Regions from separate parts of the Homo sapiens genome. Here region 2 is linked to region 1. The links come from fine-mapping of genetic effects on gene expression. A gene starts in region 1. The other region holds a variant in brackets. All regions are shown on one strand. Distances are from middle to middle.

Region 1 (2,907 bases):
GAGGATGCAGATCTCCAGCTTGGGCAACTGGGAGCGTGGTGGACAGGTCACTGAGATGAAGAACCCAAGATAACAATCAGACTTGAAGATAAAGCTCATGAGCTGATTCTTAATAGTCACAGAATTCCCTTAATTTTTGCCTTTTTTTCCCTTCCAAGACTCCCCAGACTTTTTTTTTTTTTTTTTTTTTTTGAGATGGAGTTTCGCTCTTGTTGCCGAGGCTGGAGTGCAATGGCGTGATGTTGGCTCACCGCAACCTCCGCCTCCCGGGTTCAAGCGATTCTCCCGCCTCAGCCTTCCGAGTAGCTGGGATTACAGGTATATGCCACCACACCCGTCTAATTTTGTATTTTTAGTAGAGACCGGGTTTCTCCATGTTGGTCAGGCTGGTCTCGAACTCCCGACCTCAGGTGATTCCCCCGCCTCAGCCTCCCAAAGTGCTGGGATTGCAGGCGTGAGCCACCGCGCCCGGCCAACTCCCCAGACTATTAATGACATCCTACAAAACGAGAAGCCGGGTTCTACGCTTGCACTGCTCCCTGTCCCGGAGACCGCACGCCCGAGCCCACCGAGGGGCCCGCCTCGAGCTCGGCGTCCTCCCAGGTTACCTCGAGCTCAGGGAAGCTGAGCACCACCAGGGAAGCACAAGCGCGGACACTGTCCCCTTTCACGAAGGACACGTCAACGCCCCCGACCCTCTGCAGACCCGAGAAGGCGGGGTCTCGCTGCCACGCCTCGGTGTCCCGGTCTACGACGTGGGCCTTCAGCCGAGCTTGCTCCCTAGGAGGACAGAAGCGTCAAACTTGGTCGGGGTCACACCTCAGACTCTGCCTCCTCCACCCGCGCGGCTGCAGCGGACAGAGCGCCTCTGCCGGGTCTTCTCCCGCTTCAAGGGAAAGCAAGGGACATACCGCCGAGGCCACAGTCCCTAGGAGCCCAGGCGGCGGAGACCCGCGCAAGCGCAGGCCAGACAAACTGGCCGGAAGCGAGAACCGCGCCCACCCCGCGGACTACAATTCCTGAGATCCCTCCGCTTCCGCGCCGGAAACTGGGCTTTGCTTTGGAGTCTCGGGCGGTGGCAGCTCCGATTCCACAGCCTGAAGACTATGAGCTCGGAGGGTCCGCGAAGGGCCGCCCGGCCTCGGCCCCCGCCTCCTGCGCGTCGCCTGACAGCATTACCGTTTCCACAGTGACAGCGTTTCCTCCGGCGGCCCTCCCGCCGCCTCCAGGGCCATGGCTTCGTCCCGGGCACCCCTTCCGCACGTCACTTCCGGAAGCGACTCGCTCTGACGCCGTCCGCCCTCGTTGCCATGGAGACGCTTGCGCTTTCCCGGGCCGCACTTCCCACCCGGGTCTTCAGAAGCCCGTGGCCGCTGGGTGAGCCCCTGCGTGAACGCACACGCACGCACACGGCTTCAGGTTGCCCCGCGGCGCCGCGCGCGATATCGGCTCGGATCCCGGGAGGCCGTCCGCCCCTTTTTCAGCGGATAGCTGAGGCCAGGTAAGTGACCGCGCGAGGACCCGGGAACTCCGTGACGCCCGTCCCGCCTCTGCTGTCCCCGCCGCAAGCGCTGCGCTCTGCACGGCGAGAGGGGCCTCTTGCCCTGTTGAGAGCCGGCGGGCACGGCACTTCTGCGCTTGGAAAAGGGTGGTCCAGCACTGCAGGTCCCACTCCTTGGCCCGGTCAGCGTCCGCCTTTGCTGAACCCCGAAAGGATTCACCAGGTCCAGGACAGCCCGGCAGTTGCCTCAGGAGCACTTACTGAGCGCCTGTCGTTGACGCCCCCACCTCGATGGCAGCTCAGGGGTGCCCTCAAGCTTTTGAGGGCAGGTGTCGTGTATTTAAATTCTTCACAGTTTAGCGGGCTGGACTCACGGGGGTGCTGCAGACTTGGACGGGGTTTCATCTGGGTCGGACCTTGCTGGGCAGAAAGCTTCTCCTACCAGACAAAGTACGGCGACCTTGGGGGGTCTTGGTTCTTACCTCGTGTTCCTCATTGAATGAGTGTTGGTTCAGTGCTCTCGCTGTGCCAGGTGTTGTGCGAAGTACTGTGAGGGAGAATATGTATTTATTTGTGGGGAGCCGACTTTAAACCGGTGGTTGGGAAAGGCCTGAGAGGCGATATTGAAGACACCTGAAGGGTGAGTGAAAGAGCACGGCGGGTGAGTGGAGCAGCTTTCTCGTGCAGGTCCCGGGGTGGGAAAGAGGTTGGTGTATTTGAAGCACTGAAAGGCAGCCACTGAAGCTGAAGTGTAGCAGTTTAACCCATGGTTTTATATTCTCCTGGGAGGATTCAGAAGGGTGTATGTGTGTATGTATATATAATAGCCTGAATATAAACGTCAAGGGTGTTAGGTTTTGAAGGGAAGGTGAAGGTTAAAGAATGACGCACAGTGAGATTGCCGGCGCGCGGGCGGCTCTACAGCAACACAGGTGTATTGCAAACACCTGTCGGGGGCCAGCTTAATGCCAGAGCCCACCAGCGATTACAGGCTGGGGTACTCATAGGCCTGGGCAGGAGGGATCTAGGCAGTATGGCTTGCTGTCCGGGAAGATGTTAACGTGTTCCCAGGATGAGGTGGTTCCGGCAGAATGTGGTGTTCCTGGCGCTTTGTCCCAGCAGAATATGTTAAGAGGCAGGCTGTTTCTCATGGCTCGAACCCCCGTGGAATGTTTCACTTTGACCAAGGTCTACAAAATGGAAAGGGGCTTACAAAATGACGCAGTTTGGACTAACAAAGGGGAAAATACAGAGGATGAAATTAGACTCTAGAGGTTGAGGCTCAGGAAAGGCTTCATACAGCTTTGGGAACTGACAAGGCTTTGAAAGCAGGGTCAGTTTTCAGCGAATGAGCGTCACCCACTGCACCCTGCGCACCCTGCTCCCCTGCTGCGGTGTCTTTCCCA
Region 2 (2,907 bases), 22 kb before region 1:
GAAGGGCGTGTGACGCAGGGATGGGAAGTTGGGGCTCCCCCACCTACCAGGTGCCCAGGCCCACCCCTGCCCAGCCCCTGGCCCGTGAACCTGCTCCCCCAATTCTAGCCCCCCTTGACCCTCACACCCTGTTTCCCCTGCTTCAATCCCCTGCACTCTACTCCCCCAAACCCGCCCCCCTCCCCAGAGCAGCCTTGGGGAAAGGGGCTGGGCCAGCTCAGGGCTGCCACTGCACATCCCCACGGTGGGCTGGCATCTCTGCAAGATGCTTTTGACTGAAGAAAAAAAATCAAGCTTTTGAAGAATTCAAGTTAGTTTTATTCAAAGGTCTTACTGAGAATCCTAGACCCAGGTCCCAGCCCGGGAGCAGCCTTAGAGAGCTCCTGTTTGACTGCCCGGCTCAGTGTCTCGGCCCACTGCTTGGTTACGGGGGCCGGGGCTCAGGACCTGCACAGTCACATCCATCCAGCTGGCTCCGAAGTTACATTACAGCAGAATCACATCAAGGTTTGGGCATAAGAGCACTTCTGGTTACAGATTACAGAAGCATAATCGCTAACCTTGGCCAACATTTTCTCATGTGCACGAAAAGCCAAGGACCAGGGTCCTTCACCTTTTAAGGAATACAGTGACTCAGGCAACAGACGCGGGGCCGTGTGTTCTTTCCTGTTTTGTTTTCAAAGCGTCTCTCTGGAGAGCTGCAGTGTCACAGAGTAAGGGCCCACAGAAATGAGCACACACTTAGGTTTGCTGCTGACACGCCCTGCCTCTCCTCATGTGGTTCATGTGGCCATCAGCCGGGGCTGAAGACCCCTGGCACACACCTGCACCCCAAACGGACTACAGGTGCCGCTTTCATTTCAACTCTCACCCATTTAGGGTTCGGAGCCCCACACCCACTTAACCCCAAGCCCAGTGGCAAAGCTTCCTGAGAGGCCCGGAACCGCCAGCCATGAGTTCTACACCACCCCCACTGTCCTCCTGAAACCCTGCTCCCCCAAAGACAGGCCTTACTGAGGACTTGGTGGGGTGCTGGTCAGGAACTGCCCGGTCTTTGGGGAGGGGGTGCTGGCTGTCCGCCTGGGGAGAGCCTGGGAAAGGCATGCAGGCAGATGTGGTTGGAGCTCCGACTCTCTGACTCTTGGGCTTAGGTGAGTCCTCAGCAGGTGCCCTGCACTCCTGGTCCCCTTTCCCAGCCAGATCACTGCTCAGCATCTGCAGAGTCAAGGAGGACTCTCCCAAAACCATGCACGGCCAGATGGCCCAAGTTAAAAGAAGATGCCAGTGACTAAAAGCAGGAGTGAAGGCAGGGACGTTCTCAGAGACCTCACACACATCAATAAAATCCCGTGAACGACGGTATGCCAACAGATGAGATAACATGGACGAAACGGAAAAACTCCAAGAAACACACAAGCTAGCAACTGACTCAAGGATGGACAATCCGAACGATCTATAACAAATACATAGATTGAATCGAATCAAAATCCTCCCAAAGACCCAAGACCAGATAGGCTTACTGGCAAATTCTACCAAAGGTTCTAGCAAGAATTAACACCAATCTCTCTCTTCCAAAAAAAACGGAGGAGAGAACATTTCCTAACCCAATCTATGAGGCTAATATTATCCTGATATCAAAACCAAAGGAAGACATCATAAGAAAACACCAGACCAATATCCCTTATAAATACAGATGTAAAAATCC[G/A]CACCAAAATACAAGCAAATCACATTCAGCAGCAGAGTAAATGGATTATACACCATGACCGAGTTAGATGTATTCCACAAATGGAAACTGGCTCAACATATGAAAATCAATCAATGTAACACCTCATATTCACAGAAGAACACAGGATCTTTTCAATAGAGGCCAGAAAAGCATTTGACAAAATCCAGTACCCTTTAAGGATAAAAACACTTAACAAATTAGGACTAGAAGGGACCGTCTTCAGCTGGATGAAGAGCATCCTTGAAAATCTAACAGCTCACATCACATCTAGTGGTGAAAGACTGCAAACGTTCCCTTAAGATCAGGAACAAGACAAGGACGTGTGCTCTCACCACCACGTTCGATCAGGAACGAGACGAGGACGTGTGCTCTCACCACCGCGTTCGATCAGGAACGAGACGAGGATGTGTGCTCTCACCACCGCGTTCGATCAGGAACGAGACGAGGACGTGTGCTCTCACCACCGCGTTCGATCAGGAATGAGACGAGGACGTGTGCTCTCACCACCACGTTCAACAAAGTGCTAGACGTTCCAGCCAGAGCAATGAGGCAAGAAAAAGAAATAAAAGGCGTTCAGAGTGGAAAGGAGGAAGTGGAAATGGGCCAGGTGCAGTGGCTCGCGCCTGTAATCTCAGCACTTGGGGAGGCCGAGGTGGGAGGAAAGCTTGAGCCCAGGAGTTGGAGACCAGCCTGGGTAACATGGTGAGACCCTGTCTTTACAAAAAAATCTTGAAAAACTAGGCCGGACACAATGGCTCACGCCTGTAATCCCAGCACTTTGGGAGGCTGAGGCAGGTGGATCACGAGGTCAGGAGATCGAGACCATCCTGGCTAACACGGTGAAACCCCGTCTCTACTGAAAAAAAAAAAAAAATTAGCTGGGCGTGGTGGCGGGCGCCTGTAGTCCCAGCTACTCAGGAGGCTGAGGCAGGAGAATGGCGTGAACCCGGGAGGCGGAGCTTGCAGTGAGCCGAGATCACGCCACCGCACACCAGCCTGGGCGACACAGCGAGACTCTGTCTCAAAAAAAAAAATTAGCCAGGCATGGTGGCACATGCTTGTAGTCCCAGCTACTCTGGAGGCTGAGCCAGGAGGATTGCTTGAGCCCAAGAGGTCGAGGCTGCAGTGAGCCATGATCACACCCCTGCACTCCAGTCTTGGCAACAGAGCGAGACCCTGTC

The links.
Region 2: its variant is fine-mapped to the expression of RNF213-AS1 in unexposed skin (GTEx, PIP above 0.99).

Annotation. Positions count from the first base shown.
Region 1 is chr17:80,413,523-80,416,429 of GRCh38, reverse strand. RNF213-AS1 (RNF213 antisense RNA 1) reads left to right here and starts at 1,262. Exons shown (of 2, transcript NR_029376.1): 1 at 1,262-1,501. It overlaps ENDOV (endonuclease V), which reads right to left and starts at 1,263. Exons shown (of 10, transcript NM_173627.5): 1 at 1,180-1,263; 2 at 609-780. The coding sequence starts at 1,235. RefSeq lists an enhancer at 741-830.
Region 2 is chr17:80,435,475-80,438,381 of GRCh38, reverse strand. It overlaps ENDOV (endonuclease V), which reads right to left. Exons shown (of 10, transcript NM_173627.5): 10 at 296-2,249. The coding sequence ends at 2,239. Among named protein-coding and RNA genes, the nearest start is that of MIR4730, 18 kb to the right of the region's middle. The variant G/A (reference allele first, on the strand shown) is at 1,706.